Linked DNA regions of Homo sapiens. The protein of the gene in region 1 purifies or fractionates together with the protein of each later gene. This does not show direct contact. Each region holds a gene or a part of one and is shown in the gene's direction. Other genes may lie near its edges.

Region 1 (4,230 bases):
CTACAATGCATTGCAATCCTAGTCAGCTCAAGGGCTCTTTAAGTATTTGACTTATGACCTAAGTAGCTGGGCAGGCTGATAAGAACAGAAAAAGTGAGCCATTTTGCAGGCTAGAAAACCTTCATTTTAGACTAAACTTCTTTGGTTCAGGTGAGGGCAAGAGAAGCTGGGGGCTGACAAGCAGGCACTGGCTATTCAAGCAAAGGGCTAGTATATCCTATTTCTTCTGTAGTTTGCTGACCTAAGCCAATTTAAAGCACTTTGTCTTGGAAATGGACCATTATATACATTATTTCCTTCATCAGGGGTTGCGAGGATTTATCCTGCCCTTTATCCCTTCTGGACTCAGGAATTCAGGACAGGCTAAGGATTCGGGAGGAGGTGGGGGTGAGTCAATCAGGATTGACCTTGGAGAGACATGGGATGATCGCAGCATTTCTAAGGAAGGGGGATTGGGTGGGACTGGAAGGAACCAGGAGGAGGTCAGGGGACTCCAGGTTGTGACAGGGTTCAAAGGTGGGCTAGGTAGGGCCAGCAGGGGAGCCCAAGTCAGGAGAGACTGGATTGCCTGAGCATTTACTCCCAGAGGGGCTGGGTGGGTAGCTGCCTGCCAACTCACCACTCTAATGTCCTCCCTTCCCTTCTTATTCTCTCCCTCTCACCCTTGTCCTCCGGGGTTTCCAGCTCTTTTTCTTCAAGGGGATTTAAAAATCTCTCCACTCTCATCAGTGTGAGTCTCTGGCCTTAGGCAGAAGGTAGGGTGGCCAGTCACCTGGCAGAGGCTAGGCTGGGCATAATTAGCTTGTGAGGTTAATTACAAACCAGTTCTTCAGCCTAGTCTTTGCCTGAACGTCCAGTCTCCACCAGCCCCTCAGAGCAAATGTCCACAGATTCATTAATTTCAGGGGAAGTTTCTTTGAGGCTTGCTTCAGGCACTTCTAATCTCAGGTCTTCCTGGGTCTATCACATGGTTTATTTATGTGTAAACACACATGTGTACACACACACACACACACACACACATATATATAAAGTTTTCTTTTCATGGTGAAAGTTTAGTTTATTTATGTGTAAACACACCTGTGTGTATATATATAAAGTTGTTTTCATGGTGAAAGTAATACATACTCATTGCAAAACAACCAAAAAATTAAGTAAATCGTAAATTGAAAATGGATTACTTGGCCAGGCGTGGTGGCTCATGCCTGTAATCCCAGTAGTTTGGGAGGCCGAGGTGAGTGGATCACCTGATGTCAGGAGTTGGAGACCAGCCTGGCCAACATGGTGAAACCCCGTGTCTACTAAAAATACAAAAATTAGCCAGGCATGGTGGCGGGTGCCTGTAATCCCAGCTACACGGGAGGCTGAGACAGGAGAACTGGTTGAACCTGGAAGGTGGAGGTTGCAGTGAGCCAAGATTGTGCCACTGTACTCCAGCTTGGGTGACAGAGCAAAACTCTGTCTCAAAAAAAAAGAAAAAAAAAAGAAAATGGATTACTTATACCCAATGCTACCATCTTTGTGTCTACCTTTCCAGACTTTTCTGTGCTTACATATACATAAAGATATAGAAATATACATTTTCAATAAAAATAGCATCATGCTTTATTTTAATTTTTATTATTATACTTTAAGTTCTAGGGTACATGTGCACAACGTGCAGGTTTGATACATAGGCATACATGTGCCATGTTGGTGTGCTGCACCCATCAACTTGTCATTTACATTAGGTATTTCTCCTAATGCTATCACTCCCCCCTCCCCCCACGCCCCCGACAGGCCCCGGTGTGTGATGTTCCCCGCCCTGTGCCCAAGTGATGTCATTGTTCAATTCCCACCTATGAGTGAGAACGCATCATGCTTTTTTTAATGCAACAGTATACCATGGGCATATTCCCCACAGGTAGTTGGAGCCATATCATCGGTGTACAGACTGCAGAGTATTCTGTAGCATGGTGGAATATGATAATTTCATCCATTCCCCATGGCCTCCCTCACAATAGAGCTCGTGCACCTACAGAACCTCACAGTGAGAAGTCACCACAGCGCACCACACTGTCCCTTTCCTTATCCCCTTTAACCCTGCCAGATTCTCGTTTGAGACACTGCTAATGGGCCCTCAGGGAGCCAAGGGTGGGCAGAATGAAGTAACTTAATGTGTGCTGGGTCTGGGCCCCCTTGCTGCCTGGTGACTCAGCCCACTCCCAGCTGTTCTCTCTTTTCTTTCCTTTGTGAGTGGGGAATCCCAGGGTGGGCGTGGGCATAGGATCCTGCCCTAAGTCCTGATGTCCCGTCTGGTCCCTACAGGAGTTGACAGAGCTGCAGTCCCAGATCTCCGACACATCTGTGGTGCTGTCCATGGACAACAGTCGCTCCCTGGACCTGGACGGCATCATCGCTGAGGTCAAGGCGCAGTATGAGGAGATGGCCAAATGCAGCCGGGCTGAGGCTGAAGCCTGGTACCAGACCAAGGTGTGAGGCCACCAGGGGCGTATTTCCTCCTGCCAGGGTCCTTGGTGGCAGCTTCCCTTACTCCTCAACTTGTCTCAAGCCTTCAGGGCCTGGGTCCCACTGTTCTGGCAGGCACCAGTGGTTTAAGTCTGTGGTGCTCAGCCCTGGAGAAAATCCCAAGATGGGAGGACAGGGCAGAGGAAATAGATATGGATTAATCATTATAATAGCTAAAATATGGCAAGTACTTACACAGTACTAGGCTCATGTAATTATTGACTCATGTAATCCACAGAACAGCCCTATTAGATAGGCATCATTATTACCCCCATTTTGTTTTATTTAATTTAATTTATTTTATTTCTATTTTTTGAGATGGAGTCTTGCTCTGTCACCCAGGCTGAAGTGCAGTGGTGCGATCTTGGCTCACTGCAACCTTTGCCTCCCTGGTTCATGTGATCCTCGTGCCTCAGCCTCCTGAGTAGCTGGGACTACAGGTGTGCACCACCATGCCTGGCTAATTTTTTTTGTATTTTGAGTAGAGACGAGGTTTCACCATGCTGGCCAGGCTGGTCTCAAACTCCTGACCTCAGGTGATCCACCTGCCTCGGCCTCCCAAAGTGCTGGGATTATAGGCGTGAGACACCGCACCCAGCCTATTACCCCCATTTAAAGATGAGGAAATTGAGGCACAGAGAGGTTAAGTAATTTGCCTAACTGCATACAGCTAGTAGATGGAAGAGCAGGGACTAAATCCTGAATGTGAGGGCCCTAGACCTGGGAGGCTTAATCATCACATCTACTTCATGGTGGCAGGACAGTTGATGGTGCAGGGGCTGAGGGAGCAGGAGTGGGTGCTGGGGTGAACCAGTGTTCCTGAAGAAGGGATCCCGAGGCAAGGATTGAGAGGTCTGCCCCTGCAGAGATAGAGAGTCATTCATGGTGCCTGGGTGAGAACACAAGTATGCCAACAAGAAGACCTGGGTTCAGGCCCTCGTTCCATCACTGATTGGCTGTGTGATCCCTGGGTGGTGCTTTCTCTTCTCCAAGACTCACTCTCCTCACCTGTGAAATGGGTGTTCTGGGTGTTGAATGGGTGCGAATCTCAAACTCTCAGTGATTCTCCAGCAGAAGGGCATGGTGGGAGTGGAAGAGCCCTGGGGTCCATGGGGATGGGACTGCGGAGCCTTGTCTGTCCTCCCTGCCTGGCTTGGAGGAGAATGAATCCCTTCCTCACACTGCTGTCTGGTCTCCTGGCATCGGGCAAAGGTTGATGGGAGTCAGACTGTCCTTCCCTGAAAATATAAGTTGGGAGGGGCCTTGGGTGGGGAGAGGGATGAGTTACCTGTACTCACTGCCCATCTCTCTGCCATAACTCTCTGTATGGCCCCTCCAGTTTGAGACCCTCCAGGCCCAGGCTGGGAAGCATGGGGACGACCTCCGGAATACCCGGAATGAGATTTCAGAGATGAACCGGGCCATCCAGAGGCTGCAGGCTGAGATCGACAACATCAAGAACCAGGTGGGACAAGTCCTCCTGGCTTCCCCTGCTACTTGGGGCATGCAGGGGTGGCCAGCTGAGGCCAAACTCAGGATGTGGAGCAGGAGGTTCCCATCTCCCGGCCAAAGCTGGTGCCACTGTCTCAGACCCCCTTGTGAGATCTCCAGCACAGAATGTTCTTGGCCAGGTCCTGGCATGGGCTGATGGGAGAAAGGTCCTGGATGTGCACAGAGCCTGTGGAGGGAGACTCAGGCTGGCTGGCCAGAAGAAAGCCACCA
Region 2 (4,230 bases), on another chromosome or scaffold:
CTATTGCACTCCAGGCTGGGCAACAAGAGCGAAACTCTGTCTCAAACAAAACAAAACAAAACAAAACTACAAAAATTAGCCGGGTGTGGTGGCACAGCGCCTGTAATCCCAGCTACTTGGGAGACTGAGGCAGGAGAATCGCCTGAACCCGGGAGGTGGAGGATGCAGTGAGCCGAGATTGTGCCACCGAACTCTAGCCTGGGTGACAGAGTGAGACCATCTCAAAAAAAACAACAAAAAAGAAGATAGGTGGGAATCCTGTTCATATCTCCATCATAATGGCTCTTACTGGCTAACACTGATACAGCCCCATTAAGTGAATAATTGAAGTTATCCTTTTTTGTTTGTTTATATAAACCCTAGTGATTGGCACAAAGGTATTCATTTGTGCACCTTTAAAGAGACAGTATAGTTCTTTCAGGTTTTTAGGGAGCAGAGGCTTGATCCTGTCCCTGAGCTGTTTGTTGTGGCATTAAATGGAAATCTATGGATCTTTAAATCTTTTGAGTGCATGAATTGCTTTTTGTAGTTCTTGAGCTCATTGCCATAATCCGTTTCTCATATTTCTTTGTTTCATGGAATGACCTCTTTATTTTTGTTTCAGTTCGAGATAAGTTGCGGGAGATAGTAGGAGCATCCACAAACTGGAGGTATGCATCTTTGTTTTCATTCATTCTTTTCATCCCCAAGGTATTATACTACACTGTATTTAGGCTCAGTTGATGGTCTCACAGTGGGGATGGGGAGCCCTATGTTCAGAGATAGGTTGAGAAGTATTTTGCTTGGGGGAGAAGGTCAACATTTCAACATACTCATCAGATGACACCTCATTGTCATGAAAGAAGATGATTTACGTATATTCTGCATTTTCAAAGTGCATTTAGGTGTATATTACTTCACTGATTCTCATAACAAAACTTGTGACGTGCTTACGACATATGTTCCTGTTCCTTTTTTTACACATGAAACTGAAACTCAGAGATTGAATGATTAAATGTCAGGGTTTGGGACTTGAACCCAAGTCGCTAAGTTTCTCTGTTTCATGCAACTTGACTCCTTTATTGCTTCTTGTCAGTTCAAAATTAGTCAGGCCTCCCATATTGTCTTTCTCTTTCTCGCAGTATTTCCTTGTTGTAAAGTAGGATCATATCCCTCTTGGTGTACATAATTTTGAGGCTAAAATGAGATAGAAAAAACACGAGTGATCACTAGATATATAATAATCTATTGTTGGTATAGAAATTATCTAATGACTTATTTTTAAATTCTTTATATGAAAAATTTCACTTTACTAAAAGGTAGAAAGAATGAATACCTGTGTACCCACCACCTGGATTCCATACTTATTAATATTTTGCCAAATTTTCCAATATACACATATTGCCTGAACCATTTCTAAGTAAATTATAGACACCATGACACTTCAGCGTGCATCTTCAGTAAACATTTTATAAAACCAGCCTTCGCTTATCTCCAACAAATAAGACATTCTCTCATGTAATCAAATTGACAGCAATTCCTTGCTAGTATATTACTCATCCATAGTCACATTTCCTCAACTGTTACCATTTTGTGTAATAGATTACTCCTTTTAACAAAAATGTTTTTATAGCTGTTTAAAAAACATCAAGATCCAATAAAGGATTGCATGTTGCATCTGGTGGTTATGACTCTTTAGTCTTCCCTAATCTAGAGTAATGGACAGTCGTCCTTCCCCTATTCTTCCCCCATGAGCTTGACTTTAAGGAGGCCAAGCCATTTGTCTTGAGAATGTTCCACATTCTGGATTTACTGGTGTCATTTAACTCATTCCTCTATCTCCTGTAGTTTTTGTAGGGTAAACATTTCTGGAAATAATACTTTATAAGTTAAGCTTAGAAAGACATCTTAGCTAATGTTCTTATCAACATTGTCGTTCCGTATCCCCTTGTCTTTCTTTTCTCTTTCACCTTAATCTTCTCTTCTTTTTCTTCCCTTTCTGTCTCCTTTTCATGTTATGTTCTTCTTTACCTTTTGTTCTGCCTTCCATACTTCCTTTGGATATAGTCCATTTTCCCTCCTCTGTCTCTCTTTCCTGAAATTGAAGGCAGAGAGAGAGAGAGAACTGGGGCTCAAAGAATCCGAGAACTGTCAGGTGAGAAATGGGAATATAAAGTAGAGTGGCCAAGCCATTCTTTAGCATATATATTTATATGTATATATATATACTATTTTGTCCATCTCTCTAAATTTTTAATTTAATTTCAAATATTCTGGTCTTTGAGTAAACTTTTTGATAAGGGTGAATATATGGCTCATTTGGGTATATCTATATCAGTTTTAAGTTTTCTTTTTTTTTTTTTTTTTTGAGACAGTCTTGCTCTGTTGCCCAGGCTGGAGTGCAGTGGTGTGATCTTGGCTCATTGCAACCTCCGCCTCCCACGTTCAAGCAATTCTCCTGCCTCAGCCTACCAAGTAGCTGGGATTACAGGTGCCCACCACCACACCTGGCTAATTTTTTGTATTTTTAGTAGAGACGGAGTTTTGCCATGTTGGCCAGGCTGGTCTTGAACCCCTGACCTCGTGTGATCCACCCGCCTTGGCCTCCCAAAATGCTGGGATTACAGGCGTGAGACACTGCACCTGGCCTTAAGAATGTTTTTAAGCTTGAGAAATGATACCGGAAATGATCAATTTCACCAAGTGGCAGGTGGGAAGGGAGGGAAGGAAGAGAAGGTGAAAGTAGGCCCAGACCTTCTTTTTCCTCCTTTGATGGTATCTTACTGGCCTGTGTACCACTGGAATTGTGGGCTAGAACTGCTCTTGTTTTATGAATCCTGCATCCTTTCTTCTCAGAGACCATGTGAAGGCAATGGAAGAAAGGAAATTACTTCATAGTTTCTTGGCTAAATCACAGGATGGACTGCCTCCTAGGAGAATGAAGGACAGTTATATTGAAGTTCTCTTGCCTTTGGGCAGTGAGCCTGAATTACGAGAGAAATATTTGACTGTTCAAAACACCGTAAGGTAACACAGTGCTATTTTTATGTATTTGTTTTTATTTCCTTGTTTTATAACAATTTTGAAATATAATTCACACACCATACAATTCGCCTGTTTAAAGTGTACAGTTCCATGGTTTTGATATATTTAGAGAGTTGTGCATCCATCACCACAGTCAATTTTAGAACATTTTCATCACCCTGAAGTGTGTTATTTATTTTTAAAGGGAGACCAACATGATTTGCATTTAATTCACTGTTTGCTTTATTTCACAGATTTGGCAGGATTCTTGAGGATCTTGACAGCTTGGGAGGTACTGGTATTATTTTAGTCTTTCTAATAGATACCTACAGATATACATTGAATTCTGTGACTGGAAAGGGCTCTTTTATTCTTTAACCTGCACAGATGATGATATTCTAAAGTGCACAAAAAAAGAAGGACATCGGCCGGGCGTGGTGGCTCATGCCTGTAATCCCAGCACTTTGGGAGGCTGAGGCGGGCGGATCACTTGAGGTTGGGAGTTTGAGACCAGCCTGACCAACATGGAGAAACCCCGTCTCTACTAAAAATACAAAATTAGCCAGTTGTGTTGGTGGGCGCCGTAATCCCAGCTACTTGGGAGGCTGAGGCAAGAGAATCACTTGAACCTGGGAGGCAGAGGTTGCGGTGAGCTGAGATCGTGCCATTGCACTACAGCCTGGGTAACAAGAGTGAAACTCCATCTCCAAAAAAAAAAAAAAAAAATGGCATCTACTACTTCTGAATTGTCATAATTTTTTTCTTATAAATGTAGATTCCTATTTAATGGAGGTATAGTCTGAATAATCTTTCTTACTAGTAACTTTAAAAAAAGAAAGTCTTAAACTTACAGAAAAGTTGCAAATACAGTATAAAGAATTTTTCTGTGGCCAGGCGCGGTGGCTCACGCCTATAATCCCAGCACTTTGGGAGGCTGAGGCAGGCAGATCACAAGGTCAGGAGATCGAGACCATCCTGGCTAACATGGTGAAACCCCATCTCTACTAAAAATACAAAAAATTAGCCAGGCGTGGTGGCATACGCCTGTAGTCCCAGCTATTCAGGAGGCTGAGGCAGGAGAATCACTTGAACCTGGGAGGTGGAGGTTGCATTGAGCCGAGATCGCGCCACTGCACTCCAGCCTGGGCGACAGAGTGAGACTCCGTCTCAAAAATAAAAAAGAAAAAAATTTTTTGTCCCTGAATTATGTGAGAATAAGTGGCTGAC
Region 3 (4,230 bases), on another chromosome or scaffold:
TTGTTTGTTTTACCAACCAAACAAGCGGCAGTGATATGTTTTTATTGTTGAGTTTTAGAAATTCTCTGTATATTCTCAGTATTAATGCCTTATCAGATGTATGACTTGCAAATATTTTCTTCCATTTTTGTGGATTGCCTTTTTACTCTATTGTTCGTGTCTTTTGATGCACAAATGTTTAAACATTTCATGTAGTCCAATTTGTCTCCTTTTTTCTTTTGTTGCCTGTGCTTTTAGTGACATATACAATAAATCATTGCCAAATCCAATGTCATAAATTTTGCCCTATGTTTTCTTCTAACAGCTGTATTATTTTAGGTCTTACATTTAGGTCTTTGATCCATTTTGAGTTAGTTTTTGTATATGATGTTAGGTAAGGGTCCAGCCATATTCTTTTGCATATAGATATCCAGTTTTCACAGTACAATTTGTTGAAAAAACTGTCCTTTCTCCATTGAATGGTCTTGGCACCTTCGTCAAAAATCATTTAACTATATATGTGAGAGTTTATTTCTGGGTACTCTATTGTATTCCATCGGTCTGTATGTCTGTTTTTATGCCATTACCACAGTATTTATGATTCCCTCTGTCTAGTGGTGGTTCCTGGGTCCAGTTTTATAGAACCCAGGACCTGAACTTTGCTATTTTGAAGGTGGCAGTAGAGAAGAGCATCACAGAAGTTGCTCAGGAGCTGACAGAGCTGGTGGAACATCTTGTAGACATTGTCAGAAGCCTGCAGAATCAGAGGCCCCTATCAGAATCTGGACCAGACAACGAACTGAGCATCCTGGGCAAGGTAGGCTCCACTGGGAGAGGAAAGGATGTGGAAGGGAATAGGGCTAGGGATTGCTTTCAACTGGAACAACATGAACATATTTGAACCTGAAGGATACAATAAGTCTCAATCTTTTATTGTTCTCTTTACTACCAGACATGGATGATTGGACATTTGGAATGCTTGAGGTAAGGTTGGGAAGCTTCAGATGGGCTAGGATCACTCCACCTAACAAGCTGTCTCTAAGATCACCAGTGACCTCTGTGTATAACGTTCTGGTGCCTGTCTCTATAAGCGTTCTGGTGCCTGTCTTCATTGACCTTTCAGCAGCCTTTGACACTGTGGACCACACCTTCATTCTTAGCTTTTGGGACAGGAATCTTTTGGCTTTCCCCCACCTCTCTCTGGCTGATCCTTCTCAGTCTGTTTACAGGCTCTCTCTCCTCTGCTTAGGAATTAAATGCTGGAGTTCCTCAAGGCTGAGTTGTAGGTCCCTTTGTTTCCCCTGCAGGTAGTCTTCCCTGCATCCATGGCTTTAATGACCACCTCTATGCACAAATAATAGCTCCAGGCTGGAGCCTTCTCTGAGCACTAGGCTGCTATGTCTTCCTTCTCATCTTTTCTTCTTGGGTATCTCAAAGCATCACACTTAATGCGTCCTAAACTGCTCCTCTTCTGGGATTTCTCATCTCAATGCTTGCCCCATTATCTTTCCAAGTACAGAAGCCAGAGACCTGGAAATCATGTTACCTTCTTCTCCCTTACCCTAATATGCAGCATATTGTAGCTTTAAGACCTGCCTAATTACCTCTCAAATCTATTTACTTATTCTTGAGCTCCTTTGAGACTTGCTCTAATCCAAGCCTCTGATAATTTCATGTCTGGATTGCTGTCATAGTCTTCCAAATGCTCCACTCTCCCTCTTCTAGTCTGTTTTCCTCATGGTCATCACAGTGACTACCACAAACATCAATCTGAAAATGTAACTCATCTGCTTAAAACATTCAAATTACATCAGTTTGCTCAGGAGTAAGACCCAAATCCTCACAGGACCAGCAAAGCCCTGTAGGATCCCATCTCTGTCTGCCTCTCAAATCTCATCTCTGCTCATGCTGCCTGGCTCTGTGCGCTCTAGCTACACTGGCCGCACAGTCGCTCTAGTGTGTCTCACGTCTTCCCACTACAGGGCACCCTTCATGGAATGCTCTCCTTTCCCTCCATCACTTAGGTAATACTTGCTCATCCTTCAGATCCTAGCTAGAACGTCATTTCTTCAGAAAGAAGCCTTCAATGATTTCCTTGAACAAATCAAATCTCCCCATTAGAGGCTCTGAGGACTCCATGTACCTTTCATTTGTAGTGGTTATCACCATTGCACCTTTGTAATGTCTTGTGCCATACTCTATATTAATGTCTGCCCCCCTCCCTTTTCCTTCACTGGACTCTCAACTTCAGGAGGATAGGGACTTTTGATGCTTTTTTTTTTTTTGAGACAGAGTCTTGCTGGAGTGCAGTGGCGTGATCTCAGCTCATTGCAACCTCCGCCTCCTAGGTTCAAGTGATTCTCCTGCCTCAGCCTGCCGAGTAGCTGGGACTACAGGTGTCCGCCACCACTCCTGGCTAATTTTTGTATTTTTAGTAGAGACGGGGTTTCACCATACTGGCCAGTCTGGCCTCAAACTCCTGACCTTGTGATCCACCTGCCTCGGCCTCCCAAAGTGCTGGGATTACAGGCGTGCGCCACATTGCCTGGCTGATGCTTTTGTTCTTTTGTCCACCATTGTGTCCCCAGGCGCTAGCACAGTACCCAAGTACCCACTTACAGTAGGGGTTCAACAAATACCCACTGAATGTATGGATAAATCCATCTTTAGGGATGCGATGTGTTGGGATAGAAACGCTGAGAGTCTGACTTTCAGAATTGACATTGTCACTCACTAGTATTATGACCTTGGGCAAGTCATTTCATCTATCTGCGTCTCAGGTTCCTATCTGTAATATAGAAATAATGATACAGGGCCTGCCACATCATTGGTTTATTGTGAGGATTAAAAGAGGTATAAGAAAGTGCTTGAGCAATGTTAAAATGTGGGATGTTATAATTAACTGTGGCAATTTAGTTAACCTTCATGAATTTCATCTTCTTTTGTAAAACGGAGATTTTTTACAGGTTGATAAACCTACTTTGTGAGGTTGTTATGCAAATGAGAGAAAGGCAATATCTAGCATGTAGAAAACACTCAATAAGTGTAATACTACCGTATTTTGATTGGTGGAAAGAATGGGGAGTGGATTATGCAAAGGTGGGAAGGAAAGGGGTTGAAGTTGGTGAGCAGATAAAGGGCTGTATTGGGGAAGAACAGGACCTGAGGCTAAAGAAAATCAGGGAGCATGTGTTGAAGGCCCTAGAAAGCAGGACCTGGATGCAGGCAATTTGAGAGGGAGCTCTTGCGAAGTGAAATGATATAATGATAGAGGTGGGAAAAGGTTCCTTTTTTTTTTTTTGTGAAATGGAGTCTTGCTCTGTCGCCCAGGTTGTAGTGCAGTGGCATGATCTTCTCAGCTCAGTACAACCTCTACCTCCCGGGTTCAAGTGATTGTCCTGCCTCAGCCTCCCATGTAGTTGGGATTACAGGCACTTGCCATCATGCCTGGCTAATTTTTGTATTTTTAGTACAGACAGGGTTTCACCATGTTGGCCAGGCTGGTCTCGGATTCCTGACTTCAGGTGTTCTACCCTCCTCAGCCTTCCAAAGTGCTGGGATTACAGGTGTGAGCCACCACACCTAGCCGAAAAGGTTATTCTGACCTCCATGGTTTATCTCAGTAACTATCTGTAGTATTTATTTTATAAAGCCCCTATAAGATGCGCCTAGAAATGTTAAACTTTTTTGGTATTACCTAAGAAATCCATGTTTATTGTGCAAAATATTAGAAAGCACATAGCATTAAATAAAGCAAATTAAAGTGCTCCATAACTCCATCACCCAGAAATAACCACTCTTTGATATTTTTGCTGTACTATGTACAGCAAATTATTCCAGATTTTTTTCAAGGCATATTTTTTGAGGGCCTAATTTTGTTTTTAAAAACTTGCTGGGAATTAAATAGAAAATTATAGATGAATAGAAAAACTTGAATATAATAGTTGATAGACTGCATAGGGGACTTCCATTTATTCAGTTTTAAATGGTTTATCAATAGGCTTTTTCTTCTGGGGTGGATCTTTCCATGGCTTCTCCAAAGCTGGTGACTTCCGACACAGCTGCAGGGAAAATCAGAGATATTCTCCATGACCTAGAAGAAATTCAGGAAAAATTACAAGAAAGCGTCACCTGGAAAGAGGCTCCTGAAGCACAAATGCAGGGTGAGCTGATCTTATTTATTGGAGGAGGATTAAATATGGAAGTTGGGGGGAGTAGCAGAGTGCTCTATGGCTTTGTTCTCTGGGGATA
Region 4 (4,678 bases), on another chromosome or scaffold:
GGAGGGGCTTTGAGTGCTGTCTGCGGCAAGAGCAGCAGCAGCGTCTCTGGAGGCTGCTACTAAAGATTCCACCTGGAGAAAGCATTCAGGGAGCAGTTTGGCTCACCCTGTCCAGATGGCTACCTGGAATGCACACACATGCTCACACATATATGCAGCATGCACACCTTTTGGCATTTGCCTTTTTCATGAAATAATTGCTGGAAGGCTCCTTGGATTAGGTAACCCAGCGTTCCTTCCTGTCCCCTTGGGGCTGGGGGCGGGGGAGAGAACCAGCATTTAGCATCTGTCAGGCTGCTCCAGTTCCTTTGGGGCAATGATGGCCAGTCCAGGAGGGTTTGTGGGCTCCAAACAACCTTGGGAGCAGAACATGATATGAACAAGCCTTTCAGACTTCTCCTTCCTGCAGGTCAGCTGGCTATGCATGCCCAGCCTCTGGGCCTCTTTCAGGCAGGCCAGGCTTGGGAAAAAGAAGGCCAATTAGGAAAGGTTTTTTGCACAAAGGAGGATATGTTCTCATTTTTATTTTAAATCAGCTTTATGATATAGCGAAAACTTAGAGTTAGCTTTGCCCATCATCCCATCGTCCTAAAGCAACACCTGTTTCCCTTCTTCCCTTTTCTGGTGATGGTTTGGGGTGTGCATTTGGAAGGGGGAACTATCTGGGTTCAGCCATAAAGAGCATTGAGAAGGAATAGGGGTAAGACCCCTGGCCTACGGGTAGAGGCCAGTGACTGAGACTCTCATTGCGGGAGGGGGCGATTAGTCGCAAAGCCGCCCATTCCAGGATTTGGAGATGCAGCTCCAGCACACCCTTCTTTCTCTGTCTGCCCTTAGCCTCTCCAGGATCTCCTAACGGAGGCCCCTTGGTGGGTCGGGAGCCTCTACCGACCACTAGTGGGAAGGGCACGAAGATCTTGCTATACAGAGTAGGACTGGGAGGGGACAGCGCGTAGTCGCAGAGTCAGGGAGGGGACCTCACCACCTGTCTCCTCCCTGAGGTCTTAGAACAGATACAAGAAATTCCAGGCGAAGGTCCCACAGGTGAGCGTGTGCCTGCGAGAGCCGTGGCCGCTGCATAGGGAGGGCCCCGCGGAGTGGGGCGGCAGCTGTGGGAGCTGTAGGTGTCCCCATTAGCCCGGGAGTCTCCGCCCCCGGAGGAACCTGGGCCTTGCGGGTGAGAGTCCCGAGCGAACGCGTCAGCCCGGGTGTGCTCTCTACGGTCCAGGGGGGCCAGGGCCTTCTTCGGGTGGGCCCGCCGCCCCTCCCGCAGGCCGCACGCCGCTCCTCCGGGGTCGCAGGGCTCAGTTAAGAGCCGGGGAGGGGAGAGGCTGGGCGAGCTCTCCCTCCGCACCGTCCCGCTGGGCTCCAGGGCAGGGGGGTGTCCCGGAGTCGTCCCCGGCTCCGCCCCCGAGGCCCCGCCCCGCGCCCGCCTCCCCGGCAGCCCCTCGAGCGAAGCCAGCCACGGACGGCCAGTCGCGGCCCGGAGCTGCGGAGCTCGGATCTTCTCCCCCGTCTGGCCCGCTCTCGACCCGCGCGCTCTGCTGGGCCATGGAGCCGGCCCCCGACGCCCAGGAGGCGCGCACTGTGCGCGAGGCGCTGGGCCGCTACGAGGCGGCGCTGGAGGGTGCGGTGCGCGCGCTGCACGAGGACATGCGGGGGCTGCAGCGCGGCGTGGAGCGGCGAGTGGCAGAGGCGATGCGCCTGGCCGGCCCCCTGGCGCGCACGGTGGCCGACCTGCAGCGGGACAACCAGCGGCTGCAGGCGCAGCTCGAGCGCCTGACGCGCCAGGTGGAGGCGCTGGGCTTGGCCAGCGGGATGTCCCCGGTGCCCGGCACTCCCGGCACGCCCAGCCCCCCGCCCGCGCCCGGGGTTCCCGACCGCGCGCCCCGCCTGGGCAGCGCACGCTTCGCCAGCCACGCCACCTTCTCGCTGTCCGGCCGCGGCCAGGTGAGCCCGGGGGAGCGCGTGCGCTGGCGCCAGGGAGTGGGGCTCCGAACCGGGTGCCGCCCCTTCGCCCCGACTGCCTGCCTCTGCTCGCGTCTGCGGGGTTGGGGCCTTCACCGGCCGCTCGGACTAGGTGATGGGGGTCCTGCCGCCCCTCCGGAGTTGGAGAGGGCGGGGGGAGGACCGCTGAGCCTGCCAGCTGCACCTGTCTTGGTCCTCCGCCCTGTTTTAGAGCCAGGCTCTGTTTGCTCAGAGTCCTGTCTCCCTCTCTCCTCTGTCCCATGACATCAACGGCTTGGGCGCCGAAGTCCGGCCCCTGACTGTTCAGCACTGCCTGGAGCCACGCGGGGCATGTTGGAATGGTCGACACCCCTGCCTGACCCCCACCCTCCATTCACGCTCCCCTGCGTTGCCGCTTCACTGAGGCCTGACGGCTCTGGTTATTGATTAACTCAGATTGAGAACTCAGGCCCCTGGATGGGTGGGGAGGGGGGTCGAGGGGGACGCGATCAGCAGCGGCTTTTGGGAACTCTCCATCGCAGGGGGTAAATCCCTTACCGTGAAGGGAGAGAGGTGGAAACCCGCCTTGAGCCGTGTCTAGATTCCTCGGGTCAGTGACTAGCCAGAGGCCCACACCACGTGGGGATAGGGCGGAGGCCGACGTGGACCAGTCACTACCTTGCGCATGGGCCACCCAGAGCAGTTAGAATGTGTCCATGGTGTGTGCAGTGGCCCTTGGGTGGGATTTTCCATCCTGATCAGGCATGTGCTCTCGGGTTGGGTTCCCAGGATCTGGGGCTGTGTAGCCTGCACCTGCTCCCTCCTTGGTGCAATCCCTGGGGCTCTCAGATTTCCCGCTGTGGGCTGGGCTGGACCCTAGGGGGCCTGGAGGAGGGTATCAGATTGGGCCTTCCCCCTGGAGGTCCCATCCAGGGTGGGAGATGGCCCCAGACCAAGTTTGGGCAGCCAGAGATGTTTTGCTCCAAACACAGTAGTTAGCCCCTTCTCAGTGGGTATCTCAGCAAGGCTTTGTGCTGGGGGCCTGGGGCTTGCTGCTACTGGTGCAGATGAGGGTGGGGTGGGGGCTGTGCAGGAAGCCTCAGAAAGGCTGAAAGTACTCACTGGTGAGTGCAGCCTCGAGGTATGCGAGTGGAGTGGGCAGTGGCGAATGCCCCTAGTGTGCTGGGCAGAGGAGTTGGGCTTTGCCCGGCCTGTAAGAAGTTCTTAAACATGTCATGGTAGCAGAACCCGGGAGTGTCCCAGTGCTCCGTGTGAAATGTCTGGAAATGTGGATACACTTAAGTCTGTCTTATGAACATGACACTCTACGTGACCATGGTCTAAAATCACCACTGTGAGCTCACACGTGCCTCATCAACTGTGTCATCGGTTGTTTCTGAGGTTTTATTTGAACATGCATTTGCTATTTGTCTGCTCATAGCAGCAGCTGTCCAAATTAAAAAAAAAAATGTCAGGTTCACATATACATGTAGATGTGTGTGTACACACAAAGAGAGAGAGAGAGAGAGAGAGAGAGAGGGAATTCTCTCCAGTCGTGATTTTTGTCAATGGAGATTAGCCATTGTTCACTGGCACCAAGCTAGTCCACTAGGTTAGGAGTTGGTGGATGAAGCTCAGGATGAGGGTCTTCTTTGTGTCTGGCAAGCCCTCTTCGGGGTGGATGGAAGGTGGAGGGTGGCTGGAGGTGGGTAACTTGATTGTGATGGTCCAAGGAGAAAGGAAAGGTCTGAGCTGGGCCGTGGGCCTTGGTGTGTAGAGGGGCTGCCTTGGACAGGGTTTCAGAGGGGGAATGAGCAGATGGGGTAGTCTCAGAGGGGAGCTCTGACTTGGGGGACTGCTGGGTCACAGATCTGGGGTGAGATGCTGGGTTCCACCCGGGTCGTGCTGAACATGAGGGGACTATGGGAACTCCAGGTGAAGCTGTCCCAGAGCAGGTGGATTCATGGATCTGGTGCTCCACACAGTGAGCAAGCCTGGAGATTAGGGAGCTCTCTGGGCAGAAGCAAAGAGTCTGAAGGAATTAAAAACCAGACCGGGGAACTGCCAGGGAGTGAGGAGGACCTGAGTGCACTCTCAGCAAACCAGAGAAGGAGCCCTCCTGGAAGAAGAGGCTGGGGTCAGTGAAGATGCGTCGGCCTGTTGGGGAGTGAAGATGGAGACCCAGGCACCCAGGGGCATGAGCAGCAAGGGTAGCTGAGCACTGTGGGTGGAACATGGCTATGGTCCCCAGTTGGGTTAGAGGCTCTGCACCCCTTGAGCCCTGGCTCCCGGGGCCTGAGGCAGCTGCCGCTGGGCTGACCCCCGAAGCACCAATCCCCATCTCTCTTGCTGTCCTCCGTCTCAGGAGCATTGTCACAGCCTCCAGACCAGTGTCCAGCATTGAGAGGAGGGACTGTGTGGAGCCATCCCCATGTGCTGGCTCGTGTCCTGTGACCAGCACGATGTGATCAAGAGCTTGGTCACACTCAAGGAGCCGGGGCTCAGGGTGAGACTGGAGTGTGGACCATGGACATAGAGTCACAGCCCCACACCAGGCTGCTGGGTGTCTGACCTCTCAGACTTTGTGTCTGTGTAGTGGGGGTCTGGGTGGGACAATCTCATCCCATCCACATGAGCCAGGGATGGCTGTACTACCTGGCATTGTAGAGGTTGGTGTCACACTACCCCTCTGTAACAAGCAATGACATTTAGAGACCCAGTTCCTTTCAAA

Evidence for each region.
Region 2: the proteins of KRT7 (region 1) and ACOT9 purify together in Homo sapiens (affinity purification with mass spectrometry; one large-scale study listed by BioGRID and IntAct). This does not show direct contact.
Region 3: the proteins of KRT7 (region 1) and RNF135 purify together in Homo sapiens (affinity purification with mass spectrometry; one large-scale study listed by BioGRID and IntAct). This does not show direct contact.
Region 4: the proteins of KRT7 (region 1) and SMTNL2 purify together in Homo sapiens (affinity purification with mass spectrometry; one large-scale study listed by BioGRID and IntAct). This does not show direct contact.

Annotation. Positions count from the first base shown.
Region 1 is NC_000012.12:52,239,165-52,243,394, forward strand, and holds part of KRT7 (keratin, type II cytoskeletal 7), read left to right. Parts: intron 1-2,307; coding exon 2,308-2,472; intron 2,473-3,847; coding exon 3,848-3,973; intron 3,974-4,230.
Region 2 is NC_000023.11:23,729,592-23,733,821, reverse strand, and holds part of ACOT9 (acyl-coenzyme A thioesterase 9, mitochondrial isoform a precursor), read left to right. Parts: intron 1-604; coding exon 605-650; intron 651-2,835; coding exon 2,836-3,006; intron 3,007-3,257; coding exon 3,258-3,295; intron 3,296-4,230. UniProt on the Homo sapiens protein: Mitochondrial acyl-CoA thioesterase. Catalyzes the hydrolysis of acyl-CoAs into free fatty acids and coenzyme A (CoA), regulating their respective intracellular levels. Regulates both mitochondrial lipid and amino acid metabolism.
Region 3 is NC_000017.11:30,983,965-30,988,194, forward strand, and holds part of RNF135 (E3 ubiquitin-protein ligase RNF135), read left to right. Parts: intron 1-652; coding exon 653-796; intron 797-3,979; coding exon 3,980-4,142; intron 4,143-4,230.
Region 4 is NC_000017.11:4,583,055-4,587,732, forward strand, and holds the start of SMTNL2 (smoothelin-like protein 2), read left to right. Parts: upstream 1-1,474; 5' UTR 1,475-1,551; coding exon 1,552-1,950; intron 1,951-4,678.